Linked DNA regions of Homo sapiens. The protein of the gene in region 2 interacts with the protein of the main gene of each other region in a biochemical or structural test. Each region holds a gene or a part of one and is shown on either strand. Other genes may lie near its edges.

Region 1 (4,251 bases), on a different chromosome or scaffold from region 2:
TCTGGGCACAGTAAACTCAATAGCCCAATTTCTGTCTCTGGGTTTTGGTTTGAGGTGGGCAGAAATAGGCCCTATTTTTACCTTTATTTCCCAGAACCCTTTTTTTTATAGCTGAGTTGCCTTATTTTAGACTTCAGAACAGTCAGCTTTCCAATCTTTCAGTCACTATTTAGACTTGTAGGAATAAGTCATATAATGGAGACTTCTACAAGGAGTCCTTGTGACCTCCACAGGAGGGTCATGGAGTGTACATTGATGAAAGAGAATGTCCTCTCTGTAAGCAAGGCTGGCACTGAACTGATGGCCCAGTGAACTAATGGTGGGCTTCTCTTTGCTCAGAATGCCACCCGGGTTATCAGCCGTGCCATGTGTTTGTTTTTGGGACTGGGGGTGGTGTTGGGACTGGGGGTGGTGTCGACAGCACAGAACCCACTGTCCACGGGAAAGCACAGTAGACCTCCCTGAGCACTTTCCTCCTCCCTCTCCTCTCTTCCCCTCCCCTCCCCAGCAAAACACGGCATGTGAACATTCTGCTTTTCATGGGGTACATGACAAAGGACAACCTGGCAATTGTGACCCAGTGGTGCGAGGGCAGCAGCCTCTACAAACACCTGCATGTCCAGGAGACCAAGTTTCAGATGTTCCAGCTAATTGACATTGCCCGGCAGACGGCTCAGGGAATGGAGTGAGTAGATGGTCTGATGCCTCTCTGGGACCCAGGCATCAAATTTGTCCCTAAATTGGAACCAGGATCAGGAAAAGCCTTCTAGTCCATTAAGCGATTCTGTGATATCTTTGCACAAGCCTCTGGCCTGGGCTGGAGGGGCCAATTATCAGGAATGAGTTGTTCAGGTTCCAGCTGGGTGGGGTGGCTCACACCTGTAATCCCAGCACTTTGGGAGGCCAAGGCCAGTGGATCACTTGAGGCCAGTAGTTTTGAGACCAGCCTTGCCAATATGGCAAAACCCTGTTTCTACTGAAAATACAAGAATGAACCAAGTCTGGTGGCACATGCCTATAATCCCAGCTACTCAAGAACTGGGACAGGGAGAATCGCTTGAACATTGGAAAGCAGAGGTTGCGGGGAGCTTAGATCACGTTACTGCACTCCAACCTTGGCTGCAGAAGCGAGACTCTGTCTCAAAAAAAAAAAAAGAGAAGTTCAGGTTCCTCCTTGGGACTGAACTTCCCCCTTGGGGCTCAGCTTTGGGCTCTGCCTGCTACCCTGGCTTTATCAGAAACCTGAGAATATAGTGGGGTGCATGTACCTTCTGCTTGGACAGCTGTGGCAATGCCTTCTGCTCAGCTGTCTGAGGCATGGCTGTCCCACATGAGGGTTTAAGCAGATGTTGTTTTTGGGATAATTTTTTTTTTTTAATTAAAAACTTTTTCCTGGCCAGGCACGGTGGCTCATGCCCATAATCCCAGCACTTTGGGAGGCTGAGGCGGGTGGATGACGAGGCCAGGAGTTCGAAACCAGCCTGGCCAATGTGGTGAAATCTCATCTCTACTAAAAATACAAAAATTAGCTGGTTGTGGTGGCAGGCGCTTGTAATCCCAGCTACTCGGGAGGCTGAGGCAGAAGAATCACTTCAACCCGGGAGGCGGAGGTTGCAGTGAGTGGAGATTGTGCCATTGCACTCTAGCCTGGGTGACAGAGCCAGACTCCATCTGAAAAAAAAAAAAAAACCCAAAAAAACCACACTTTTTTCCTTAGAGACACAGGTTCTCACTCTGTCACCTATGCTAGAGTGCAGCGGCGCAATCATAGCTCACTGCATCCTTGAACTCCTGGGCTCCAGCTATCCTCTTGGCTCAGTCTCATAGGTTGCTGGGACTGCAGGCACATGCTACCGTGCCCAGCTAATTTTCGTGTATTTTGTAGAGTCGGAGGTCTCACTATGTTGCCCAGGCTGGTCTCAAACTGGACTCAAGTGATCCTCCCACCTTTCCTGGCTAGCCTAGGGTAGTGCTTCTCAAACTTCTCCTCTGAAGTAGAGGAGCTCCTCGTACCCCTAGACATCTGGGAGTTACTAAGCTATAGCTGTGCTTGCAAGTCCTACATAAATTCTCACACTGTCTTTAAAATTCATATGGAAGTTGCCTTCTGTGTATTTTAAGAAATGGAATGACTTTTCAGAAAAATTGAGATATAATTCATACATCATAAAATTCCCCCTTTTAAAATGTACACCTACCTCAGTGTTTTTCTGGTATTGAGTTGTGCAGCCACCACCACTATCTAATTTTAGAACATTTTCATTATCCCGGAAAGAAACACATGCCCATTGTATTAGTCTGTTTGGGTTGCTCTAAAGGAAGACCTAAGGGTGGGTAATTTATAAAGAAAAGAGGTTTATTTGACTCGGGGTTCTGCAGACTGTACAAAAAGCATGACACCAGCATCTGTGTCTGGTGAGGCCCTCAGGAAGCTTTCACTCATGGCAGAAGGCAAGGGGAGCCACGTGTGATGTGGTGAGAGAAAGGAGCAAGAGAGAGAGCATGGAGGGAGGTCCCAGACTCTTTAATAACCAGGTTTCATGTGAGCTAATAGTGTGTGAACTCACTCGTTACTGCAGGGAGGCCACCGAGCCGTTTGTGAGGAATCCATCCCCATGACCCAAACACCTGCCACTTAGGTCCCACCTCCAACACTGGGGATCACATTTCAACTTGAGATTTGGAGTGGACAGATATCCAAACAATATACCCATTAGAGGTTACCCAATACCTCCCACCCACTTGCAGTCTACTTTCTGTTTCTATGGATTTTGCCTACTTTATAGTTCAATATAAATGGAATCATGTAAGATATAATATAGTCAGGTAACATATAATGATGTTTCGGTCAATGACCACATATAGGAAGGTGGTCCCACAAGATTATAATACTGTATTTTTACTGTGCCTTTTCTATGTTTGGCTATGTTTAGAGACACAAATACTCACCATGTTACAACCAGCTACAGTATTCAGTACACTGAGGGCCATACAGTTTTGTAGCCTAAGTGCAACACGTTATACCATTTAGCCAGGGTGTGTAGAAGGCTGTACCTTCTTGGTTTGTGTGAATACACTTTATGATGTGTGCATGATGACAAGTTGGCTAACAACACATTTCTCAGAAGGTATCCCTGCCGTTAAGTGATGCTTGGCTGTATATAATACATAAGATATGGTATTGTGTGCCTGGGCTCTTAGACCTAGCATAGTATTTTCAAGGTTAATGTGTAGCATGAGTCACTACTTCATTCCTTTCTGTGTCTGAGTAACATTCCATTGTATGGATATGCCACATTATTCATTCATCATTTATGGACATTGGGTTATCAGAATTACTTTAGAGTAAAACTGATGCTTGAAGAAGTGTCAGCAATGGTCAGGCGCCAGGGGCCCATGCCTGTAATCCAAGCATTTTGGAGGCCAACATGGGAGGATCACTTGAGCCCAGGAGTCAAGACCAGCTTGGGCAACAGTGCAAGACCCTGTATCTACCCAAAAAAAAAAAAAAAAAAAAAAAGGCGGCATGGTGGCACATGCCTGTGGTCCCGGCTACTGGGAGGTGGGAGGATCACTTGAGCCCAGGAGGTTAAGGCTGCAGTAAGCTATTGACTGCACTCCAGTCTCCAAAAAAAAAAAAAAAAAGGTGTAAGCATGTTTGTGCTGTGGCCTCACCTTCAGGTAAGCAGTGATGTGAACCAGGCTGAACAGCACAGGGTCTATCCCTGTGTGTAACACTCCTTGGAGCCAGGCCTTCAGTGGCTTTACTTCTTAGCTGTAGTTTAAAACTGCTTTCTACTCATGCCCCTCAAACTTATTTTTAATAATTTCTTTTCCCTTCACAGCTATTTGCATGCAAAGAACATCATCCATAGAGACATGAAATCCAACAGTATCCTTTGGTTGTTGAGTTCATTTGACTGCTCGGTTCTAAATTTAGGGAAACAGAAGGGAGGCTTTCTATCACAAGTGGCTCTCGGTGCCAGGGGATATCTTTTTAAGGAAAGAGGCAGAGGACAGGAAAACAGAAAAGTCAGAAAATTAGTAGGCTTGGCCTGTCCCTCAGCAGCTTATGCCTCACCTGGACTGATGAGAGCGATGTTTAGGTTAGGTTCCTTTCTGAGTTTATCTCAGCAAAAGTGATTTGGAGAGATTTCCGTAAGCTTGAAATAGGCATAATTTTATCACACTATTAGTAAATGTAACCTGACGGGGATTGGGCTTTTGTCTTAAGTTTATTTCTAGTTTGTG
Region 2 (3,889 bases):
TCTCATAGTATAAGCTGTTCAAGGGTCAGAGAAGCCCCCAGGTCCTGCCTTTTCCTGTCCCTTTATGTTGGGGAGTTGGGGGTGTTACAGGTATGCTAAACTCTTTAGCTGCAGTCTATCTACCCATGCCAGATTCATCAAGATCCTCGATAGTGTCCTGCACCACCTGGTACCTGCCTGGGACCACACACTGGGCACCTTCAGTGAGATTAAGGTGAGCCGACCCAGCCAGTGCTGGTCTTGGCATTTCCCCTTCCTGCTCACGTAGTTGTTCATTCCTTAGCAGAGTTCCTAAAATCTACTCTAGGGCAAGACCTTTGCTGGGTCTGGGAACATAGGAAGAAAGCCAGAACAAATGGTCCAAATTTAGTGTTTGGGAGGCTGTTCCCCAGCCTCCTTGGTATTCCAGAGTGTGTGGAATACCCAAGGGCTATTGACAGCACAGGCAGGGCAGTTTGCGTGAAAGGTACATACAGGGAGTTACCAGCAGCTCAAGATGTCTTGAGAAAAGTGTGCCAGTAGGTGTGAGTATGACAGAGGGATGAGGGTGGAAGGATGTGGGCAGGAGACAGGTCCTGGTTGCAGAGGGCCCTGTGGGCCAGGCTGTGAAGCAAGGACTTTGTCCCAGGGTAGTGGAGCTGTTGGAAAGGTAAGGAAGGTAATGACAGTATTAGATTTTTTTGTTTTAGAAAGCTCTCCCTGGTGGCTGAACTAAGGAGGGGACTGGAGACAAAGACAGGGATGGACTAGACTTGAACTGAAACGGTGGAATTGGATACAGGCAGAGGGGAAAGTTCCAGGGCCTGGACGGAGGCTGACTGCCCACTCATTCCTGCTCTGGCCACCTCTCCTCACTAGCAAGTGAAGCAGTTCCTACTGCTGTCCCGCCAGCGGCCAGGCCTGGTGGCTCAGTGCCTGCGTGACTCTGAGAGCAGCAAGCCCAGCTTCATGCCACGCCTATACATCAACCGCCGTCTTGCCATGGAACACCGTGCCTGCCCCTCTCGAGACCCTGCCTGCAAGAATGCAGTCTTCACCCAGGTCTGCACCACCTAGGGTCCGACTGAGATAGGATCAGTCAAGGGCCAAGGGGGCTAGGCCAAGAGGGACCTGAACAAGTTCTTGGGGCAAGTATAGGGCCAGGTCTTGCTTTCCTATGACTCCTTTCCTCCTTGCCTCCAGGTATATGAAGGCCTCAAGCCCTCTGACAAATATGAAAAGCCCCTGGACTACAGGTATGGCATGAGAGTGAGGGACTTACTCGGGACACCTGTTTGTGCACACAAACACACACAAACACACACACACACACACACACACACACACAACTGCTCGAGGCACCCCTCGCCATGACTGCTTTTCCCAGGTGGTCTCTGAGCTGATGAATTGTGCTGCACCTGGCCCCACATAATGACAAATCTGCCCACGTTTTTTGCAGGTGGCCCATGCGCTATGACCAGTGGTGGGAGTGTAAATTTATTGCAGAAGGCATCATTGACCAAGGTGAGGCCCTGAGGGAGGATCTCAAGGGTCCTGCTTGCTGCCCTATCAAAGTGGTAGAGGCTTTTCACCAGCTAATGATGATGGGGGACCTATTCATTACCCCATTATGGGAGCTGGGCTCTTGAGTGCCCAGCTGAGGGCATCTGTCATTTCAGGGGGTGGTTTCCGGGACAGCCTGGCAGATATGTCAGAAGAGCTGTGCCCTAGCTCAGCGGATACCCCCGTGCCCCTGCCCTTCTTTGTACGCACAGCCAACCAGGTAATCTCCGTTTCCATCTCTGCAAACCTCCCAGGTGCCAGATTGAGCTAGAAAGGGGGCAGAGGAGGGGGCCAGATTGAGCTAGAAAGGGGGCAGGCACAGTGGCTCACGCCTGTAATCCCAGCACTTTGGGAAGCCGAGGCGGGCAGATCACGAGGTCAGGAGTTCAAGACCAGCCTGGCCAATGAAGTGAAGCCCCATCTCTATAAAAATAAAAAATTAGCCGGGCGTGGTGGCACGCGCCTGTAGTCCCAGCTACATGGGAGGCTGAAGCAGGCGACTCGCTTGAACCCAGGAGACGGAGGTTGCAGTGAGCCGAGATCACGCCACTGCACTCCAGCCTGGGTGACACAGTGAGACTCTGTCTCAAAAAAAAAAAAAAATAGAAATAGGGCAGAGGAGGGACTGAGTTGCTCAGGGCAACCTCTGGGCAGACAGGGAGAGGAGGAGCCACTGTGCATTTGAAGGGATCATTTAGTGGAAAATGTTCCCAGTGGAAAATGTTCAGGGAAGTCTTTGGGCCAGGAAAATAGGGTGTATCTCATGCCACACTCACAGCTCTGTCTCTGGGGCAGGGCAATGGCACTGGTGAGGCTCGGGACATGTATGTACCCAACCCCTCCTGCCGAGACTTTGCCAAGTATGAATGGATCGGACAGCTGATGGGGGCTGCCCTTCGGGGTAAGGAGTTCCTGGTGAGTAGCCTTATCCACACCCCCGTCCGATCAGCCCTGGCCCTTGGAAGGAAAGGCCAGCCAAACCTGGGCAGCTCAGGGTGAGAAGACAGTGGGGAGTGTTTGTCACACAGGTCCTGGCCCTGCCTGGTTTTGTGTGGAAGCAGCTTTCTGGTGAGGAGGTGAGCTGGAGCAAGGACTTCCCAGCTGTGGACTCTGTGCTGGTGAGTAGGACCTGGAACCAGTGTTTCCTCTGCCCAGCCCCTAAAGGTTGGTCCTCCCTAAGGCTGTTCTGTACCTTGTTCTTTCACCACACACAAGATCCCTCTCCAATCCATCCACTCCCATGGCTTCAACTACTGTCTGTAGACTCGTGACCCCTAAAATCCTGACCTCTAGCCCCAGCCTCTCCTAAGCCTGGGGCCATATATGTATCTGTACCCTCGACGTTTGCCCCAAGATGGCATCTCAGGCTCAGTGTGTTCTTTATCTTCTCCGAAGACTACTCCCCTCTAGGGCTCCTGCCTCAGAAGGGCACCATGTCCCACTCCTCCCCATCCCAAAGCCCACAGGGCCATCCTTCACCCCTTCTTCTCCCTCGCCACCATATTCTTAAGTCTTCCTCTGTAATCTGTTTGCTTTTCCTGTCTCACTACTGTCTCCCTGCCTGGTTGAGGACACCTTTCCTCCTTAGCTAATCACTTACTAAAAAGCTGGTGTCCCTGTCTCCGTTCTTACCCGTTTGGTCTCCATGCAGCCACAGTAATTCATTTCACTCTCCTTATTTAAACTCATTGATGGCTCGGCCCTGGGCTTAGGATAGAATGCAGAATCTGTAAAGGCCTTACGTGAACCCTGTGTCTCCAGCCACTTGGTTCACATTCAGGCTCCAGCCACACAGTTTCCTTAGGCCTTTTGCTCTTTCCAGCTTTCTCCAAGATGTTCTCTCTCCTAACTTCCCTTATGTCCCAGCCATCATTTGGGTCTCAGCTGAGACACCATTTTCCACAGGATGCCTCCTCTGGCCTCCAAGGCTGGTTAGGTGTTGTCTTGATGCTTTTACAGCTCTTGTACTGACACCCTCATTCCCTGCTGCCTCCATGGGGACTGCCTTGCCTGGCTGTCTCTGCTTCCCTGTGAGCATCTTGTGGAAAGACAGGGACTATCTCCACAGTGAAAAGGTTACCTCCCTGCCTCTCTCCAACCCCTAGGTGAAGCTCCTGGAAGTGATGGAAGGAATGGACAAGGAGACGTTTGAGTTCAAGTTTGGGAAGGAACTAACATTCACCACTGTACTGAGTGACCAACAGGTGGTGGAGCTGATCCCTGGGGGTGCAGGCATCGTCGTGGGATATGGGGACCGTTCTCGTTTCATCCAACTGGTCCAGAAGGCACGGCTAGAGGAGAGCAAGGAGCAGGTAGTACCCAGAGGCTAGTAGAGCAGAGAGCTTTG
Region 3 (4,548 bases), on a different chromosome or scaffold from region 2:
AGACAGACTGTTGGCAAGGAAGTCAAGTGGTTAGGAAACTGCAGGCCCAGGGTTACTTAGTAGTGGAAGTAAGAAGAGGTAAATAGAATCAATCCGTCTTCATTAAAGCAAGACTTCCCAGACCACTCTACCCACACCCTTCAATAAATACACTTACCTGTATCATTCATTTGATTTTTATTATCTAGGAATGTCTGGGACCTTATCTGTTCCAAATAAATGATATTTGCAGAGCTTAGCTATTTTAACTTCCAAAAAGCAAAAAGAATGGAAAATAACTTGCTCCATACCCTGTTTTCTGTAGACATTCTCTGAAGTTTTTCATAATATTGCTTAAAGAATGAAATGTATACAATTCACAACTGCCATTCCCCTCTGAAAAGTTGTTACCCACCAAAAAATAGTGGTCCAACTCATGCATCAAAAGCAAGTTTGGGGATCCCACTATAATAGTCTGTTCTGACTCACACCATCTGCCCAAATTATATAGATCAGGCTGCCCTGACATAACCCCAGCCACACACCAGCAGCGGCCCCCACGCTATAACAAATCTTTAACCAATTATTAAAATATTAGAAAATGCATGACCATTGAAAATAATCCTTAACAATAATTGCAATGCTTGGATGGCTTGTAATGTTCAGACTCCCAGATAAGCACTTTTACTATACTGCCTATGTTGTTTCAGATCTTGCCATCTAGCTTAATACCCTCCAAGTAACAGGTACCCAATAAATGTTTATTACTAAAATCTTCTAAAACCAGGGAAACAAGAGAGAGACTGCCTATTATAATAGATGACGAACAGTGATATGTGATGACTAAAAAATTTGGTTGACTAGGAAAATGATACCACTAGCAAAAATGGGGATGGTGGGGCTGTGACATCAGTTTATAGGGCAAGAATCGAGCATGTTTTTTAGATGTAGATAGTGGTGATAGGACATCTCAGAGGAAAACACTCTTAAAGAAGTTGCCCAATACTACCTTTACCATAAGTCCTATTATTCCTAAGGAAAGTACAGTTATTCTATGCTCTTAATTCCACTTCATGGAACCTTCATATTTTCCTAAGCCATATTCAACTGTTTTATTATAATCTGATTTTTATAATGAATAGAGATCAAGAAAGTAATTTAAAAACCATTTAATACACAAAGTGAAAAACTATTAGAATATAAAAGCATTTCACATTTTTTAAGACAAATAATATCTTCTAAATTACTTAGCAGATGATAGAGGTCCACAGTCCTTTCTCTGAAACCCTTGGGGCAAGTTGTTTCAGAATTATGAAATTTTAGATTTTAGAAAAGTAGTTTTGTGCATATACCATACTACATTAACCAGCCCTCACCACAGTCTGTGGCAGCAGCCCTCCCTCTCATCATCAAGCAGCAAAATAAAGGAATATTCACACTAAATGGGATAAAAAGATTCAAGGTCAGTTCAGATTAGATTGCAAGCAAATGAATTTTGTCACCAAGCTTATGGAAACCTTGTTTTCAGAGCTTTTTGGATTTTGGAATTACAATTACAGATAAAGGAGTGCAGACCTTTATAAATTTGTATGACAAGACATGAAAGATTGTTTAAACAAATGACTCATTTTTACAAATGAAAAAACATGTAATTTTCAAATACATTATAAATTAACAGGCATCTTCTCTTTGATATTATTAAATGTACATCTTAAATACATATACACACAACAACATGATTTATGAAAGCCAACTAATATTAGAAGCACAGATACACAATCCCTTCGATGAGAAGGGGATACTGTTAAATTTTCAGTGGAATTTAAAATGATTACACCAACTCCTTATGATGCCAGGAAGAGAACCTGTTCAGTGCAACACAAGGAGGTAGAATTTATTCTTCAAGAAATAGAACTTGTGAGCAGCCTTTTTAGAAAAAAACACAGGTAGACTTTTACTTAAAATGCCTATTACTTGAGGTTTTCTTCTCTGTATACAAAACTACATTTGGTCTTACGCCCAAAAGTTAAAAGTTGACACTAATACATAGAAGGTATTTTTAATCAGTTAAATAAGTAATGTTTTACCAAGACTGAAGGCAAATGTGTCGTGATGATGCTTCTAAATAGCTGTGGTATTAAAACAAATATTCAAACAAGTACATTGACTTTTTCTAAATTCCTGTCTGTTTAGAGGCTTGAATTACTCAAAACTGTTATACTTGTAAAATCATGTTCTTCTGATCATAGTAGAAATGTAGTTTCTGTTCATAGCCATTTCTTCCATTGACTGATGTCTGAAGAATGGTTTCATGGGGGAAAAACACATTTCCAACATGTATAGCAACAACTTCCATAGGTTTGGGGACAGTGAACAAGTGACAACTCATTCTGTTAACCAACTCCAATCAAGATTCTAAAACCAGGCATGAAAAAGTTACAATTAGATGTTGACTATAAGTTATAAGTATATGGGTGTTCATTTTTGCAAGTTTTCTGTTTGGACATTTCATAATCAAAAGTTGAAAAATCATTTCATTTACCTTATTTCCTGATTTAAAAAAATTTCAGAGTTTTTTTCATAAATATTTGAAGTAAACAATTATTCTTTCCTTTTCTTTTCTTTTTTTTTTTTTTCTTAAGAGAGCAGGATCTTGCTATGTTGCCAAGCTGGAGTACAGTGGCTATTCACAAGTCCAATCATAATGCACTGCAGCCTTGAACTCCTGGGCTCATGCAATCCTTCTGCCTCAGCCTCCCTAGTAACTCGGACTACAGGTACATGTCATATGGCTGGCCACCATTATCCTTTTTTTTTTTTTTTTTCCCCGAGACAAAGTCTCACTCTGTCACAGGCTGGAGTGCAATGGCAGGATTACGGCTCACTGCAGCCTGAAACTCTTGAACTCAAGCGATCTTCCTGCCTCAGCCTCCCAAGTAGCTGGGACCACAGGTGTGTGCCACCACACCTGGCCAATTTTTATATTTTTTATAAAGACAGGGTTTCCCATGTTGGCCAGGCTAGTCTCAAACTCCTGGGCTCAAGCAATCCACCTGCCTTGGCCTCCCAAAGTGCTAGGATTACAGGCGTGAGCCACCATGCCTGGCCACTGCTATTTTTCTTAATGAAAGAGGAAATGTACAGAATTGACATTAAGACTAAATGCAGGAAAAATTGATTCAGTAGACATTTTATGGTAATTTCCTCAAGTTTTAACAAATCAGTAGTTTATAGTAACCAAATCTTAACACACACTTATTATTACAACTATATTAACATAATTTATTTTCTATTCGGGAGGTACCATATCTGAATTAAAGTACAAGTCCCATCTTAATGGAGAAAATTGATTGCTGAAGCAAAAAGGTACAGAACAAACCATTCAATTTCAATGGTCACATTGTGAAGAAGCTTACCACTCATTTAATTTGACCAAAAATGCTATTATTGAAGATAATTGATGACATAATCCTAGTATATCCCTGAGTAACGGCAGATAAGGATTTAAGGTTGAGGATATTCCCCAAATGCTCTTTCCTCTTGAGTTCTTCTATTTCCCATATGCATCCCAAATGCCAGATAAGGCTAGCATGGAAAGTTAAACCTTTTGCACCCAACATAGCCAAAGCAGGCACCCATATCCACACAAAACTTACCATCATACTATTGCCCTGTTCCTCATTTGCCTCATGAATAATAGTGCTTAAATGGCCAAGGCAGTTCAAATTTTCTTCTATCATTTGTGCTGAAGTCTCCCTGTGAGATGAAAGAACAAAGCCTTTTCAAACTCAGGAAAAGGGCATATGAATTTCCTCTACTTTCTAGTCTTCTAGGTTAGCAAGATCACTAGCCTTCCTGTAACCCAGTACCCCAGTGCAGTTGACTCCTGTAGTCTTTAGTTTCCTCATCCCTCCCTACAGAGGCAGAGTCCTGTTAAGACCAGGCTGCTGCCTCTACCTCTACCTAACTAATGATAAGAAGTCCACTATAACTCCAGTCTGACTTTCCTCTGAAATGTAAGATGCACTTATGTACAACTTGTTTTTCCCGTGAAAATGTAACTAGGGAGGAAAAAATCCTTGTGGCAAAGACAGATGAAATACGTTTTTGTTTCTAAATACTTCTCTTTCCTTAAAAGTAGTAAAAACACCAGCATGCATACTTCACAGACACAAATGTAGGGGAGAAGAGAGAAAAGTAAAATCTGTTCTGTAGAGATCACAGAAAGTGAAAAACTCATTAGAAACTACAGATGATAGCAATGAAACGAAACAAGCAAGCTGATTCCTGAGGACAGCAAAAGAAAACAGTGTGGTGGGGGAGCTACCCAGAACCAAGAAGTATCCCTGGAAGTTCATATTTGAAGGCAGTCCTGATTGTGGTTTCTACCTTCATGCTTTCCTCTTCTATATGGCCTCTAGCTTCTCCCTTTGCCAATCTTCAGTCCCCTAACAAGAGTCCGTTTTAGGTCATGGATGATAGCCACTATTAGCTTAGAATGACATTCTGATTCAGCTCTTATCCAACAGATGGAAAAATTATGGTCAAACAGTTCCCAATCCTTGGTAG
Region 4 (3,523 bases), on a different chromosome or scaffold from region 2:
CACCGCGCTTGGCTTTTTTTTTTTTTTTTTGGAAACAGAGTTTCGCTCTTGTTGCCCAGGCTGGAGTGCAGTGGCGCGATCTCCGCACACTGCAACCTCCCCATCCCGGGTTCAAGGGATTCTTCTGCCTCAGCCTTCCGAGTAGCTGGGATTACAGGCATGCACCACCACGCCTGGCTAATATTGTATTTTTAGTAGAGACGGGGTTTCTCCATGTTGGTCTGGCTGGTCTTGAACTCCTGACCTCAGGTGATCCACCCGCCTTAGCCTCCCAAAGTGCTGGGATTACAGGCGTGAGCCACCACACCTGGCCTCTTGCTCTTAAGAATTCTACAGCCTGACTGGGCATGGTGGTTCACGCCTGTAATCCCAGCACTTTGGGAGGCTGAGGTGAACAAATTGCTTGAGCCTAGGAGTGCAAGACCAGCTTGGGCAACATAGTGAGACCCTATCTCTTAAAATAAAAAAGTAGCCAGACCTGGTGGCATGCCCGTAATCCCAGCTACTTGGCAGGCTGAGATGGGATCACCTGAGCCCAGGAATTGCAGGCGGCAGTGAACTGAGATTGTGCCACTGCACTCCAGCCTGGGTGACACAAGAGACCTTATTTCAAAAAAAGAAAAAAAGAATCCTCCAGTCTGTTGGCAGAGTTGGCGGGGCACCCACCTGCATCACAATCAGACCGTGGAGACTGGACTTTGGGGTGTTGAGGTGCCTTGGGACTCCTGAGTGCCCTGACCCTGTACCCCTCCCTCCACTCCAGAGGGGACCCCATATGCTGGAGGTCTGTTCCGCATGAAACTCCTGCTGGGGAAGGACTTCCCTGCCTCCCCACCCAAGGGCTACTTCCTGACCAAGATCTTCCACCCGAACGTGGGCGCCAATGGCGAGATCTGCGTCAACGTGCTCAAGAGGGACTGGACGGCTGAGCTGGGCATCCGACACGTACTGCTGGTGAGTTCTGGGCTGGGGCTGGGCCTCCTGCCTCCTGCCTCTGGAGGTCTGCTGGTGTCTGAGCCATAGCGCTTTGTTTAGTTTTTCTGAATCAACTCTGAAGTGGTTGAAGGTTTCCACATAAAAATCCATGTTGCTAGCTTTCCTGGAAAGACAAACAGTGCCAGACCCAGGACACCCAAGTACTGTTGAGAAGTGCCCAGGAGCACCTTACTATGCAACGAGTGGTGAGTTTGTATTGTAGGATGGTTTTTCTCTTCTCCCTTTTTTTTAAAAAACAAGGATAGGGTAGGCCAGGTGTGGTGGATCACTTGAGCTCAGGAGTTCGAGACCAGCCTGGCCAACATGGTGAAACCCTGTCTCTACTAAAAATGCAAAAATTAGCCGGGCATGGTGGCACATGCCTGTAATCCCAGCTACTTGGGAGGCTGAGGCAGGAGAATCGCTTGAGCCTGGGAGGCAGAGGTTGCAGTGAGCCGAGATCGCGCCACTGCACTCCAGCCTGGGTGACAGAGTGAGACTCTATCTCAAAAAAAAAAAAAAAATAAGATAAAAAATAAAACAGGAATGGGGTCTCATTTGTTGCCCAGGCTGGTGTCAAACTCCTGAACTCAAGTGATCCTCCCACCTCGGCCTCCCAAAGTGCTGGGCTTATAGGAGCCAGCCACTGCGCCTACCCTGTAGGACAGTTTTCTGACAGGTGGAGGTCAAGGGTCTAGTTAGAAGCTCTTTCTTTCTTTTCTTTCTTCTTTCTTTCCTTTTTCTTTCTTCCCTTTCTTTCCTTTCTTTCTTTTTGTTTTAAAGATACTGGCTCTTTGTTGCCCAGGCTGGAGTGCAGTGGCGCAGTCATAGCTCACTGTAGCCTTGAACTCCTGGGCTCAGGTGATCTTCCTGCCTCAGCTTCCTGAATGGCTGGTATTACACGCATGCACCACCATACCCAGCTAGTTTTTATATTTTTATGGTTTGCAGAGATGGGGTCTCATTAGAGGCTTTTTTGCTAAAGCTGAGCTTACATGCCGTAAAACTCAGTTCCAAAGTATACAGTTCAGTGGTTTTTTAATAGCGATAGGGTTCATAAACCAGTGTTTCTCAGCCAGAGGTGATTTTGCCCCCCAAGGGGTATTATGCATTGTCAGGAGACCAGAAAGGGTTGTCACAACTCGGGGGTGCCACTAGCATCTAGTGGGTGGAGGCCAAGGGTGCTGCCCAAATCCTGCAGCGTACGAGATGGCTCCATGACACAGAATGACCTGGCTGCGGTGTTGCTGAGGTGGAGGCGTCCTGGTCTAGGCTGGTGCTCCAGGCTGCTTACAGCCTGCTGCCTCCCAACCCTTCCCGCAAGCTGAAAAAAAAAAAAGTTAACCAAATTTCTAATGAGTCCCTGGGGCACATGGCAGAGAGGGTGGGGAATTGGGGTTTCCTGCCATGGGGAGGGAGAGGATTGAGCTCCAAGGTAAACAGACCCCAAACCCTTCCCTCCCACATGTACCGCCTCCCTTCCCCTGGGGTGTCATTGGAGGCTGCTGGGGACATTGGCACCGAGCTCCAGGCCTACTTGCTGCTAGGTCAGCATCTGGGCCTGTCAGGGGCTCAGCCAGCAAGAAGAGCAGCCAGACCTGCAGTTTGGGTGCAGTGATGAGAATTAGGGTGGGAACCTGTGTCCTGGTCACCATCAGTGATATCTGCTGAGCATCTGCTGAGCCAGGTACTGTGTATGTGTCATAGTGGCCCCAGGGAGCAAACTGCTGTGGCCAGTTTGCCCAGACCCACTTCAGAGGATCCAGCTGGGGCTGCTGGAGGCCTGGCTGCAGGTCACACCTCTGCACTCCAATTTACCCCTCAGGACGGGCTGTGAAGGGGGTTGAGAGGAATCTCTGGACCACCCTCGAAGTGCACCTCAGCCAGCAGTCCTGGTGTCTTGCCCTCTTGTGTGTGGTCCAACCCAGCTAGAGTCTTAGGCTGTGAACTTCGGATGTCTGATAAAAGACAGAGGTCAGGATTTATGCTGTATCTGGAAAGATGGGGAGCTTTAGAGTCCAACACGCAGGTGTGATTTCCTCAAATCCTGAGGCCCTGGGGAAGTCTCTTCTCTCTGTCCAGGCTGCAGGCCTCACTCGTTGAACCAGAGGGCCTCTAAGGTCATGCTGAACTGCATGGAGGCAAATTCAAAACCATAATAGGACTCAAGTCTGGGGCTCAGGCAAGTAATGGACTCCTGAGAGGGGGCCTTGGCGTTTCCCCCGTTACCCAGCAAGTTCCACGGAGGACCAGGGACATTTTAAACCATTGGGCCTATGGCATCGTGTCCTTTTGGGAACATCTGCTGTGAGGCAGGTCACATGAAGGTGGCCTCTGAGGGAGACAGGAGCAAAGATGAGGGAGGATGCAGCATAGGTGGGGCCTGGATCTGCAGCTGAGTTGGGAGCAGAAGGAACAGCCAGTGCGGAGGCCACCCTCTTGTGGAGGCCTGGGGGTCCCTGTAGGTTGCCCGACCCACTGTGACCCTGAGCCTCTTCCCACAGACCATCAAGTGCCTGCTGATCCACCCTAACCCCGAGTCTGCACT
Region 5 (4,251 bases), about 30 Mb from region 2:
TCCCTGCTCTAGAGACAACACAGGGATCATGGGACACAAGTCACTAGCCCTGGACCAGCCACTGCTCAAGAGGCCACGTGCAATCCACGGCATTCATCTGTCCCTCTTCCTCCACTGTTCAGCACTTGTCGTCAATCTGGAAGCTGCTAAGAGCCTGTCTGTCACTGGCAGAGAAAGAGCAGACCCTGTGCCGGCTGCAAAGTCCTTGAGTTGCAGGAAAGTCCAGGCCTCAGCCTCTTTCAGGCCTGGGGCAGGAAAGCTTTGGGGTGCAAGATAAGGCAGGGTGAGGGGCCCTGGCCTTATGATGTTTTAAAGAAAAGTTTTTTCCGGAGGAAATTAAAGCAACCAGGCATCTGTTTATAAATCCCTTTCACCGAAACAGCATTAGCGACCTGTAAGACATGACCATGGAGAGCTCTGTGAGTTCAGTTCTCTGGACTGAAGGAAGAATTCAAGAGGGGCTGGGGGGAATGTCCACTCAACCCGCACCTTAAAAACAGCTCAAACTGCAGCCTCTTTGAGCAGGAGGGCTTAAAGAATACGCACCTCAACTTTACCTTTAAAAAACTCAAAATTCAAAATTTCCAAATTCATAAAGTTCAAATCAGACTGAAATATTTGCAAGGAGCCAGGAGTGGCCCCAGCCTCGCAGCCCCTTCTCGTGGCATGAATACCTGAGCAGAGCAGCTGGGGCCCATACATGCTGCCTCCCAAGGCAGCCACAAGGCCACAGGACCCTCAGAGGAAGCAACTGCTCTGAGTCGGGTTTCTATGGAGTAGGACTGGGCCTATCAGGCCACCCTTCCCTATCTGTTTCCTCACTGGGGCCTCCTGAGAAGGCGATGTACAAGGAGGGGTTCACAATTCTTGAGGGTCAAGAGTAGAAGACTACATGATGCCCACAGGATATAGGGAGGGGCCCATGACCCGCCTTCAGGGTCTGGACAGAGCCATCCTGCGCTGGCACTGAGGACCAGCTCCATCAGTGGAGGAGCGGGAGGTGTCAACCTGGGGACCTTGGAGGAGACAGGGAAGGCAACTCTTTGAATAAAGGGCAAACGTCACCACAGGCAGGATGCCTCTCATAAAGAGACACAAAAGTGCCGACTCCAAGGCTCAGAGGCAGGAGTCTACTACCTTTTACCCTTGGTTTGGGCCTGCCCTGCTCACCCCAAATCCCCAGCCCCAGGAGGACACGCTGCCCCTCAGCAGCCTCCCCTCTCCTTTGCAGAGGAAGGCAGCACTCACCCTAAGCAGGAGGGACTGCAGGTCTTCAGAGTGAGCCCACTGCTCAAAGATGTCGTCCAGGGTCTCAACGTACCAGGAGCCACTCTTGGGGTCCCTCCAGGAAACAAAACCTTTGGAGGGAGGAGGGCTGAACACTGCTGGAGAGCCACCCCTCCGCCGGCTCCCCACCACCCCTCTGGCCATGCACGCTGGCTCGGGCGCCCTCCAGACCTTGACTCATACATACATCCAACAGGAGCAGCCTGGCCCCTGAGGCTCTGCCCTAATCATGATCTTATTTCACCCTCATGACCATCCCCTGATTCCGGCTATAATTCCTGTTTTCCCAGCAAGGAAACCAAGGCTTGGAAAAGTCAAGTGACTCATCCAAGACATAAGAAAGGAAGGAAACTGCCAGGCACAGTGGCTCACACCTGTAATCCCAGCATTTTGGAAGGCCGAGGTGGGCAAATCACTTGAGGTCAGGAATTCTTGACCAGCCTGGCCAACATGGTGAAACCCTGTGTCTACTAAAAATACAAAAATTAGCTGGGTGTGGTGATGCATGCCTGTAATCCCAGCTACTTAGGAGGCTAAGGCAGGAGAATTACTTCAACCCGGGAGGTGGAGGTTGCAGTGAGCTGAGATCATGCTACTGAACTCCAGCCTGGGCGACAAAGCAAGACTCCGTCTCAAAAAAAAAAAAAAAAAGGCTGGGCGCGGTGGCTCACGCCTGTAATCCCAGCACTTTGGGAAGCCGAGGCAGGTGGATCACGAGGTCAGGAGATCGAGACCATCGTGGCTAACACGGTGAAACCCCATCTCTACTAAAAATACAAAAAATTAGCCAGGCGTGGTGGCAGGTGCTTGTAGTCCCAGCTACTTGGGAGGCTGAGGCAGGAGAATGGTGTGAACCCGGGATGCAGAGCTTGCAGTGACCCAAGATCGCGCCACTGCACTCCAGCCTGGGCAACAGAGCGAGATTCCATCTCAAAAAAAAAAAAAAAAAAAAAAAAGAAGGAAGGAAACTACCGCTTGCTGCAACTACTACGTGCCCCGCACTGTGCTCAGTGACGTGCCAGCCACCTTGTTTAATTCCCATGGAAACCCCTGAGGCACGATTCCTATTCCCCTGCTAAAGATGCGAAGGCAGAGGCAGGGTCAGGCAGAGGAGAGGCAAGTGAGGCATAGGAACCCAAGGGCGCAGGCCTCCTTGCAGCGCGCATCCTTGCCCGCTCAGCCTGAGCCGAGGCTCAGAGAGAAGTAACTTGCTCAGGGTCACAGAGGGGCAAAAGACAGAACCAGGACTCATACCCTGGTCTTTTCTCTCACCACACAGCTGCCTCTAGGGCAGACGGGAAGACCCACTGGCTGCGAGGACGAGCCCTTCTGATGTGCTCACCTGGGAAAGTAGAGTAGGACACAAAGATGTCACTGGGTGTGGGCAAACTAGATATGGCGTCCAGCTGGTCGAAGGTCCTCAAACCTTCCTGGAACGGGGTGGCATCTGGCTCGGGGTTACTGCCAGGGGACTCGTCTTCAGGGGAAGTGGAGGCCACCTCAAACCCATGGTCTTTCTGCTCTGCAGGAAGCAGAAACAAACACCTCTTGTCATTGAAATACACAGACAAGGATGGTTCAACATATGAAAGTCGGTGCAATATACTACATTAACAGTGTGAAAGGAAAATAAATCTTGGGACCCCAAACTCATTAAGCCAAACGGAAAAGTCAAGCTGGGAACTGGGTCACGCAAACCTGCCTCCCCGTTTTGGTTCCTAAATAAGATGGCTACAAGATGAAAAGCTACACACCTCTCCCATATTTTGCCCACAAGGAAATTCCTGGTGAGCTCCAAGATAGTTGTCTGATAAAATTCACCACGGCAATGTAAATGGATAGCTTATCTTTACAGAGGCATCACCCCTCTGCCCACCTGGCACAAATGCATATCTGATTATTCCCCTGCCCCATTTGTCTTTGTTATCTTACGTAAAAATGCAGGTTCCCTGCATTTTCCCCTGCCCTATGTTACCTTACGTAAAAATGCAAATTCACTGAGCCAGACAAATGCTTGAATGACTATTTCCCCCTACCCTGCTCTTACCTGAAAACTGTGTACTTCTCAATATCCTGCCCTTTCCCCTTTAAATTTGGAACCCTAAAATTCATGTTCAGAGAAAGGCATAGACCTGTCTCCTGGGCGTGCATCCTTAACTTTGGCAAAAGAAACTTCTTAAATTGACTGAGACCTGTCTCAGATTTTTGGGGTTCATAAGAGAATGAAAAAAACCCTACATCATCATCTCAATTGATGCAGAAAAAAGCACATGACAAAATTCAACAAGCTTTCATGATAAAAACAGTCAACAAACTCAGAATAGAAGGAAACTACCTCAACATAGTAAAAGCCATATATGAAAAACCCACAGCAAACATTATACTCAATGGTGAAAGACTGAAACCTTTTTCTATAAGATCAGGAAGAAGGCAAGAATTTCTGCTTTTGCCACTTCTATTCAACACATTACTAGAAGTTAATAGAGCAAGGAGGCAAGAAAAAGAAATAAAAGACATTCAAATTGGAAAGAAGGAGTAAAATTATCTCTACTCACAAATGGTATGATTTTATATGCAGAAAACCCTAAAGATGAAACACTATTAGAACAAATAAAATTAGCATATTAGCAGGATACGAAGCCAACCACAAAAAATACTTCCATTTCTATACACTAACAATGAACAATCAGAAAAAGAAATTACAAAAATGGTTCCATTGACAATAGCATCAAAAATAATAAAATAGTTAGAAATTAACTTAACCAAGATGAAAGACTTGTAAAATGAAAACTACAAAACATTGCTGAAAGAAAGAAGGCTGGATGCCATGGCTCACGCCTGTAATCTCAACACTTTGGGAGGCTGAGGCAGGAGGATCCCTTGAGCCCAGGAGTTCCAGACCAGCAAAACCTCATCTCTACACATAATAAAAAATTTAGCCAGGTGTGGTGGCATGTGCCTGTG
Region 6 (4,251 bases), about 180 Mb from region 2:
AGATGCTCCAGGCACTACTATGTCACGAGAGGTCCCTCACTGCTGTAGCTACAAGTTAGGTTAAAGCCGAAACCCGTGCATCTGGTTACTGGTGCCTGCACCAAGATTCTCCTGTGGCATCTGTGATACCAGCTGCAGCCACAGAGAGTGAACTGTTTTTAAAAATGAACCTCCTGCTATAGAGCTTGCCTATTTTTTTTTTTTTTTTACAAAAATAAATAAAATGAACCTCCAATCATGGTCAGTTGCAGCATATTAACCACCACCACCACCCCCCAAACAACAACAACAACGCACACACACCCCTCGAAAAGATAAAATGAATCTCCAGCTGTTTGACAGCCAGCCACAAGGCAGCCTTCTCAGGACAGCAAGCCCCCGGCTTCTGTGCTGTCCAGGGTGCCTCGGGCTGTAGCAACAGCTTTGGAAACACTTTACCTTTGACACTGTGCTTGCCCTTGGGTAACTTGCTGATATGTGAAGCGTGCTTCAGTTCATACCTATTCAAAAGAGGACAGTCTCAGAAGAGGCCTTCACACTGGGCTCTCGAAACCAACAGTTTGATTAGGAGAATAAGATCAGATACAGAGATGAGATAAAAGTCCACAAAACCCAGACCATCTAAACTGCTCAGGCTCCCTCCTGAGTTTCTGGAACTGTTCCAGAACCTGAAACTGCAGTTGCGGCTGAACATAGTTTGTGCCCAGCGATCACTGCTATGGGGCCATTTTCAAGGCAAGGCCCTATTTGGAGTGGTGGTCAGCAGCTCTAGGTTTCCGTCCACATTCCACAGTCCCCAGACCCCTGGCCTTTTACATGACCTTGTGCTTTTGGTTACAGTTCACAGGACTAGGGTCGATGTCCAAATCAAGCTGGACTAATCAGATCTTTCTCTATGGAGAATCTGGAAGTGGAATTAAAATTCCAGTTCCATTTGGGTTGGTCTAAGAAAACTGAAACACTGGTGAGTGGAGGAGGCGGCCTGGGGGATCATCCTTTGTGCAACTCAATCTCTCTGCTTCCCAGTCCATGGAGAGAAGACACTGCCAGCTCTGGAGGCCTGGCTGCGTTCCTGCCCTTGCATTTCCTGAAGTATCCTTGTATCTCCCTTGTTCCCTTAACTTGAATTGGATTCTGCTACTTATAAGAAAAGAATCCTAATTGGTGCGTCCAGTAACTGCAGTGGGGAATTTCTACTCTCCCAGCCAAGGGGAGTTCTGCCTATAGCCCATTCCACCTGTCCCCATGAAATGCCATCAGTCCCAGAGCCAGGTTTACTCACATGTTTCCAAGGGCAACTTCTCCCAACAGGATTAAGCCTATTGGGTCTCCCTGAGACGTATGGCAGTAGTTGGCACTCTTGGAGACCATGTCAGCGAAATAGATCCCTTTACCAAACATGTAGCCTGTCTGGAAGGTCGGAAAAGGGAGAGCTGAGAATCTTCTGATGGGAAATTAGGAGCAGCTGTTCACTGAGTGCCAACTTGAGCAAGCCACCCAGCTAAGTGCTGCAATCCATCACTTCTAATTCTCACAATGCCCATGGTGAGGAAATACCAAAGTTTTAGCTCACAAGCCAGGCTGTCAGATCCTAGCTCTGCCAGGTGCCAAGGAGCTGCAAGAAGCTACGTAACCTCTCTGGACTCTACTTGCCTCTTTTCTCAAATGGGGAACACAGTCTCATGGAGCTGCCATGAGGACGGAATGAGCTCATCAGTGTTACTTAAACTAGCGCCTGTCAACACCCAAGGAATGCAGGCTGGTATTTTTATTCCCTTTTGTAAATGAAACACGAGGTTCACAAAGGGTAGGCCATTTGCCCGTTATACACTACTGCACAGCCCCAGAGAGAATCATTTAAACTTCTCTCCTCCTCATTCTACAACTGTGAAACAAGAGGCTTAGAAGGTCCTGTCCAGGTGGACCCATCTAGAATCCAGCAGGTGGCATCACGATCCCTCGTGTCTAGGTAAAGCCTTACTCATTCATCGCTACGTTTTCCTGCTGAAGACACTGACACTCAGAGGTGGCCCGGCTGGGAAGTGGTAGAGATAAGCCTGGACTCAGCTTGGCCTGTAGCCACGTGTCTGTTCTTTGCTTGTCAACACACCCGATTAGCATCTGCAGCAGGCCCTGGCCTGGATGCTCTGCCTCCTTTGTTCCAGAAACTGTGTTTGAAACCCCTGACAGGGTTAGGGTCAGGAGGATAAAAGGGTGAAGGCCCAAAGAAAGGATGTCTGGCAGAATCCCCCTAAACCAACTAGACCTCTTGCTCAAAGTTCTTTATGGAGACACCTGCAGAGACAGGCATTGCCCACCCCTCGCCAGGCCAGGCACATACCACGGGCGCTTCAGGCGGGGCTATCCGAAGACCCTGGGACAGGATCCCAGCAAAGTTGGTGGTCCTGGACCCGTGCCACAGCAATCTTCGGTTATGAAGCTGCTTAAAGGGCTTGTAACGCTGGCATTCGCCTTCACGCTCTATCTTAAAGATCTGGTTGGAGTAGTAAACAAAGGGAAGGACAAAAGAAGCCATTTGTTACTCTGGTTGACTGAAAGACAGGACTGGATACACGAGAAATGACCGGCTGTCCCTAAGGCTAGAAGACTTAAGGTCTGCTGCAATGTAAAAAGTGTTTTCCACAAGGCTGGGATGGAAGGTCCAGGTCCTGCCCAGCAGCGCCCAGCCATTGCTGGTTAGTATTACTGTGCAGCAGATGTGCACTTGAGGAACTTTATCTTGGACATCTGATAATCTATGTTCTGAGACCAGGTTTGGGGACAGGAAATGTCCTTTAAAACAGAATAAAAAGCCATCCCCAAACTACTGTATAAGACTGCTAATTTTATAATCCCAGCACTTTGGGAGGCCAACGCAGGCGGATCATCTGAGGTCAGGAGTTCAAGACCAGCCTGGCCAACATAGTGAATCCCTATCTCTACTAAAAATACAAAAATTAGCAGAGTGTGGTGGCTCACGCCTGTAATCCCAGCTACTCTGGAGGCTGAGACAGGAGAATCACTTGAACCCAGGAGGCAGAGGCTGCAGCAGGCCGGGATTGCACCACTGCACTCCAGCCTGGGTGATAGAGTGAGACTCCATGTCAAAAAAAAAAACAAAAAACAAACAAACAAAAAAAAAACTACTAATTTTTCTGCTGAACAAATGAGTCACTTCTTTGGGTTATTTAAAGTAAATAAACTGCTCTTTTCTACCCAGGCCCAGGTTGGAGGAGTGGGCAGGGAAGAGCTGGCAGGACACAGAAGGAAGTGGGGGAAGAAGGGATTCTTACATCGATGACTTCCAAGTCATACGCATTGTGTGTGGTTGCATGAGTGTTCTTAACATACTTCCTGATGATCTCGGCTTCTTCAGAATCTCTGTCAACCACCTGGATAAACAGAATCTTGGGATTAGCACAAAAGAGACCCAGGAGAGCTACAGAGGAGGAATGCTCAGGCTCAGTCAATGCATAGCTCAACACCACACTCCTCAAAGGAAGCCGGGCATGACCGAGAGCCTGTGTCCCAGGCCTGTGGGCTGGGCAGATCCTGGGCCAGTGGCTCCACTTACCTAAGCCTCCACCTCTTCATCTACTTGGGCTGCTAGAGAATCTCAGGGTTCCTTTTTGTCTTAAAATTCTATGTTTTGGGATATCAGGGAAGCTAGAATGTGGGATTCACTGTCAGTGAACAGGGCATCTCCAGAACAAGCAATTGGCTCCTGGAAGAGAGTCCAGCTCAGCATGAGTTAAAACACAATGGGCCAGAGGAAGTCACAGCTATGATGTGCAATGAAAATTATCCCTGGCTCAGAGCACAGGCCTAACAAGCATCTGTCAAATAGCTGATGTAATCTATGCTCAGTAAGCCTGAGTATTACGGAGGAGACTAGTTATGTTTTATTTTCATATTTATATTCAAACTTCAGAAAACCTAGAATGCTGGTCTACCTCCCTGTCTTTTAATTAAAAGGCTTCAGAATTGTAAAAAGAGAATAAGAATCCCTTCACGAAGAACCACACCTACAGTTTTCCCATCAGGAAGGTGCTCTAGGGGCAAAACAAATGACATGTGGTGTCTTACCCTGCTTGGACCCATAGGTCTATACTTTGTCCTAGGAAAGAAGCCAAGGCTCTTTCTTTAGCGATGTAAACACCTGGTACCAGACTCAACATACTCTCGCCCACCCAAACCCCTGCAACACTGCAGGGAATGGGCTGAGGACAATGGGGCACATGAGTGTGGAGA
Region 7 (4,251 bases), on a different chromosome or scaffold from region 2:
TCAATAATTCATAGTACAATTCTAAAATACCCAAATTCTACATCAAGTTTTGTTTTTAAAAGAAATTTGGGGCTTTCACGTCTAATGGCATTTATTTGCTTTCTTCCTTTAGATTATGTCAAATGGTAGGAAATCAATTCTCTTTTCCCATTAATTGACAAATACCTATGGCAGGCAAATGGGCACTTGATGAAAAGTGCTTTATATATCAAAAGCCAAGCATAAGGCATTAAGCTGTTGAAAAATATACCATAGGAAAGTTTTTGTATGGGTGTGGTGGCTCACACCTGTAATCCCAGCACTTTGGGAGGCCTAGGCAGGCAGATCATTTGAGGTCAGGAGTTCGAAACCAGCCTGGCCAACATGGTAAAAGTCTCTACTAAAACTACAAAAAAAACGAACCTGGCGTGGTGGCCTGCGCCTGTAATCCCATCTACTCGGGAGGCTGAGGCATGAGAATCACTTGAACCCAGGAGGCGGAGGTTGCAGTGAGCCAAGACTGCACCATTGCACTCTAGCCTGGGTGACAGAGTAAGACCCTGTCTCAAAAAAAAACAAACAAAAAAAAAAGTTTTTGTAGACAAGAGGAGTCACGTGAAACAATCAGGGATAAGACTGGCATCATCTACTTATAATAATACTCAATGCATATATTTCTCTTTTCTAGCCCCAGGAGAGTATATTAGGACTTCACTTTAAATATCTGGCCGATATTCAGCCCTTAAACAAGAAAGATTTGTGACAAACATCTCCATCCCACCACAGATAACTTTCCATCTTGAGGCCATACTTACTTTTCTCTATCTGTTTTGTAGATCCGAGCAATCTCAGGCACTAAAGGATCATCTGGATTGGGATCACACAACAGAGAACAGATGGACAAGAGTACTAGAATGAAAAAAATCATATAAATTAGCAGAGGATCAAAGCAAAGGGTTGAGAGAAACATGAGACGCCAAAACATGAGAAAATTCTAAGAATTTATACTGTAATGCCTAGCAGCTTTGTAAGTTTTACTTAACTTTATATTAACAGTAACCAACAAGGATTATTATTATTATTATTATTTCTTTTTTTTTTAGCAGAATTGGGGTTTCACCATGTTGGCCAGGCTGGTCTCGAACTCCTGACCTCAGGTGATCCACCCACCTCGGCCTCCCAAAGTCCTGGGATTACAGGCTTGAACCACCATGCCTGGCCTAATTTTTGTATTTTTAGTAGAGATGGGGTTTCGCCATGTTGGTCAGGCTGGTCTGGAACTCCTGACCTCGTGATTCACCCGCCTCGGCCTCCCAAAGTGCTGGGATTACAAGCGTGAGCCACCACACCTGGCAAATAGTTTTTTTTATTTTTTATTTTTTGAGACGGAGTCTGGCTCTGTCGCCCAGACTGGAGTGCAGTGGCGCGGCGCGGTCTAGGCTCACTGCAAGCTCCGCCTCTCAGGTTCACACCATTCTCCTGCTTCAGCCTCCTGAGTAGCTGGGACTACAGGCACCCGCCACCACGCCCGGCTAATTTTTTGTATTTTTAGTAGAGACGGGGGTTTCACCGTGTTAGCCAGGATGGTCTCGATCTCCTGACCTCGTGATCCGCCCACCTTGGCCTCCCAAAGTGCTGGGATTACAGGCGTGAGCCACTGCACCCAGCCTACCAACAAGGATTTTAAGAAGCTTAAACAGACTTTAGGTTAGGTCATTAAAAAATAAAAATGAAGGCTGGCTGCAGTGGCTCATGCCTGTAATCCCAGCACTTTGGGAGGCGGAGGGGGGTGGATCACGAGATCAAGAGATTGAGACCATCCTGGCCAACATGGTAAAACCCCATCTCTACTAAAAATACAAAAATTAGCTGGGCGTGGTGGTGTGTGCCTGTAGTCCCAGCTACTCAGGAGGCTGAGGCTGGAGAATCGCTTGAACCTGGGAGGTGGAGGTTGCAGTGAGCCGAGATCGTAGCATTGCACTCCAGCCTGGGCGACACAGCAAAAAATCCATCTCCAAAAAATAATAATTATAATAAAAAATAAAAAATAAAATAAAACAAATAGCAGAAAATTAATGTTAAATGACATCTTGGTCTCCCAGATACAAATATAAGCCCCTTTGTGCAAAGTCTCACAACAATCCCATGATGTAAGAAGAGTTGATATGACTGTCTTTATGCCTGAACTCCTAAGGGAGCTGGCCCAGACAGGTGCAGTGACGTGTTCAATGTCCCTGGCTAGTAATTAGAATAGAATTAGAACTTTGTCTAAATTCTAGACCAAGAACATTTTTCAGATCCCATAAAGTTCAATTTTTTAGAAGCCCATATTCAAGGATAAATGGCTTTCAAAATTCCAAGTGCGATGGCTCACTCCTGTAATCACAGCACTTTGGGAGGCCACAGCAGAAGGATCGCTTCAGGCCAAGAGTCTGAGACCAGCCTAGGCAACAGAGTGAGATTCTGTCTCTACAAAAAATAAAAATATTAGCTGGATGTGGTGGCACACTCCTATGGTCCCAGCTACTCAGGAGGCTGAGGTGGGAGGATCACTTACGCCCAAGAGGTTAAGGCTGTATTGAGCTGTGTTCACACCACTGCACTCCAATCTGGGTGACAGAGTGAGACCCTGCCTCAAAAAGAAAAAAAAAAAAGACAGCCACACTACTGAATATTCTTAGCAAAAACGACAACCATAAAATCCAACAATCACTGTTTTCCAGTGGCAGGCACCACATTCAGACAATTGTTTTGTTTAATTTTCAGTTGAAAACAATTCAGTCTAAATCAAGAACATAAATGCAAACACTTGCCCCTAAATGGGGATGGTCATACACTCATTACAGAGAATACAACATACTTCTATGAATGTCTCAAATTCTCTTCAGTGACAATTTAGAATCTCATCTAAGCCATTTCCTCGGTGACAACCTGGGATGTAGCAGACAAATCTCAATAGTGTAATTTCCTTTGTTCAAATCTGTCATTAACTTATGTTTTAAAATATTTATTTATTTATGTATGTATTTATTTAGAGACAGGGTCTCACTCTGTCGCCCAGGCTGGAGTGCAGTGGCATGATCTTGGCTCATTGCAGCCTAAACCTCCTGGGCTCAAGTCATCCTCCCACCTCACTCTCCAGGTAAGACTACAGGTGAGTGCCACCATGTGTAGCTAATTTTCTTTGTATTTTTTGTAGAGGTTGGGTTTTGCCATGTTGGCCAGGCTAGTCTTGATCTCCTAGGCTCAAGTGATCCACCTGCCTCGGCCTCCCGAAGTGCTGGGATTACAGGCGTGAACTACCACACCCGGCCATATCTATCATTAACTTATGCATTCCTTACTGAATGCAAAGGGGGCATAAAGTCACTGATTACATTAAGTTCAGTAGCCTCTGACAAAATAAATTTAAATCCTTCTATACTAATGCTAATAGAGCTCAGCCATCTTTCTTTTCTCTAATAGGTGTTCTGTACCAAGAGATAATAACTCTCAGCCCATTTTACTCCCAACACATAAATTCAGCAGGGAAAGGATTCGCTCATATTCCTACCAAATCTATCCTATAGAGATCAAGGGCTTCTGAGAAGTAAAGAAATAGTTGGCATGCCCTATTCAGTTTGGTAACAAAAATGCTATTTCCTTGCCTTAAGAGTATATGAAAAGTTTTTTTAAAAAATCAGGAGAGATGTTTTCTGACTCTTCATTCCTGTTACCCACAATTCTGGCAGCTGGCATTCCAAAAACATTTTCCTATTGTCAGGTGTCATCACCTGAAGCCCTCTTCAAGCATAGAACATTCTAACATCAATTAGGAAAGACTTCATGTATTTCCTGGAAATGACAACAGGGAAGTTAGAAATTTTTGAATGTTCCTTTAACTTATTCTTCTAAATATTCTAATAAGTCAACTTTAAAGGACAGGTTTTAAAGAAAGGGCTTTTCTTTCTTTCCAGGAAAGGAGAGTACTGGCTATCTGGACCTTGTGAAAAGATTTTTAGTACACTACTTAGCTTCTTGATTTCATGAAGAATTCATTTTGGTTTCTAATATACTGATATGGTTTGGATCTGTGTCCCCACACAAATCTCATGTTCAACTGTAATCCCCAACGTTGGAGGTGGGGCCTGGTGGGAGGCGACTGGATTATGGGGGTGTATCCTTCATGAATGGTTTAGCACGACCCCTTTGGTGCTGTTCTTGTGATAGAGTTCTCATGAGATCTGGCTGTTTAACAGTGTGTGGCACCTCCCCCATCTCTCTCTTGGTCCT

Evidence for each region.
Region 1: the proteins of HECTD3 (region 2) and RAF1 form a complex in vitro, tested with the Homo sapiens proteins (one study listed by BioGRID).
Region 3: of the proteins of HECTD3 (region 2) and CHUK, one has a biochemical effect on the other in vitro, tested with the Homo sapiens proteins (one study listed by BioGRID).
Region 4: the proteins of HECTD3 (region 2) and UBE2S form a complex in vitro, tested with the Homo sapiens proteins (one study listed by BioGRID).
Region 5: the proteins of HECTD3 (region 2) and CASP9 form a complex in vitro, tested with the Homo sapiens proteins (one study listed by BioGRID).
Region 6: the proteins of HECTD3 (region 2) and PARP1 form a complex in vitro, tested with the Homo sapiens proteins (one study listed by BioGRID).
Region 7: the proteins of HECTD3 (region 2) and UBE2D2 form a complex in vitro, tested with the Homo sapiens proteins (3 studies listed by BioGRID).

Annotation. Positions count from the first base shown.
Region 1 is NC_000003.12:12,587,232-12,591,482, reverse strand, and holds part of RAF1 (RAF proto-oncogene serine/threonine-protein kinase), read left to right. Parts: intron 1-508; coding exon 509-685; intron 686-3,845; coding exon 3,846-3,892; intron 3,893-4,251. UniProt on the Homo sapiens protein: Serine/threonine-protein kinase that acts as a regulatory link between the membrane-associated Ras GTPases and the MAPK/ERK cascade, and this critical regulatory link functions as a switch determining cell fate decisions including proliferation, differentiation, apoptosis, survival and oncogenic transformation.
Region 2 is NC_000001.11:45,004,565-45,008,453, reverse strand, and holds part of HECTD3 (E3 ubiquitin-protein ligase HECTD3), read left to right. Parts: intron 1-132; coding exon 133-214; intron 215-858; coding exon 859-1,041; intron 1,042-1,182; coding exon 1,183-1,235; intron 1,236-1,438; coding exon 1,439-1,503; intron 1,504-1,658; coding exon 1,659-1,762; intron 1,763-2,337; coding exon 2,338-2,457; intron 2,458-2,570; coding exon 2,571-2,660; intron 2,661-3,647; coding exon 3,648-3,854; intron 3,855-3,889. UniProt on the Homo sapiens protein: E3 ubiquitin ligases accepts ubiquitin from an E2 ubiquitin-conjugating enzyme in the form of a thioester and then directly transfers the ubiquitin to targeted substrates.
Region 3 is NC_000010.11:100,187,234-100,191,781, forward strand, and holds the end of CHUK (inhibitor of nuclear factor kappa-B kinase subunit alpha), read right to left. Parts: intron 3,736-4,548; coding exon 3,636-3,735; intron 2,395-3,635; coding exon 2,365-2,394; 3' UTR 2,276-2,364; coding exon of another isoform or gene 2,195-2,275; 3' UTR 1,067-2,194; downstream 1-1,066.
Region 4 is NC_000019.10:55,401,719-55,405,241, reverse strand, and holds part of UBE2S (ubiquitin-conjugating enzyme E2 S), read left to right. Parts: intron 1-763; coding exon 764-954; intron 955-1,094; coding exon of another isoform or gene 1,095-1,241; exon of another isoform or gene 1,242-1,279; intron 1,280-1,899; exon of another isoform or gene 1,900-2,110; coding exon of another isoform or gene 2,111-2,299; intron 2,300-2,584; exon of another isoform or gene 2,585-2,652; intron 2,653-3,479; coding exon 3,480-3,523. Other genes in the region: RPL28 (large ribosomal subunit protein eL28), read right to left, coding at 2,111-2,299. UniProt on the Homo sapiens protein: Accepts ubiquitin from the E1 complex and catalyzes its covalent attachment to other proteins. Catalyzes 'Lys-11'-linked polyubiquitination.
Region 5 is NC_000001.11:15,492,644-15,496,894, forward strand, and holds part of CASP9 (caspase-9 isoform alpha precursor), read right to left. Parts: intron 2,810-4,251; coding exon 2,630-2,809; intron 1,359-2,629; coding exon 1,249-1,358; coding exon of another isoform or gene 1,141-1,248; exon of another isoform or gene 393-1,140; coding exon 300-392; 3' UTR 1-299. UniProt on the Homo sapiens protein: Involved in the activation cascade of caspases responsible for apoptosis execution. Binding of caspase-9 to Apaf-1 leads to activation of the protease which then cleaves and activates effector caspases caspase-3 (CASP3) or caspase-7 (CASP7).
Region 6 is NC_000001.11:226,362,661-226,366,911, forward strand, and holds part of PARP1 (poly [ADP-ribose] polymerase 1), read right to left. Parts: intron 3,393-4,251; coding exon 3,294-3,392; intron 2,495-3,293; coding exon 2,342-2,494; intron 1,411-2,341; coding exon 1,283-1,410; intron 501-1,282; coding exon 439-500; intron 1-438. UniProt on the Homo sapiens protein: Poly-ADP-ribosyltransferase that mediates poly-ADP-ribosylation of proteins and plays a key role in DNA repair.
Region 7 is NC_000005.10:139,620,005-139,624,255, reverse strand, and holds part of UBE2D2 (ubiquitin-conjugating enzyme E2 D2), read right to left. Parts: intron 889-4,251; coding exon 795-888; intron 1-794.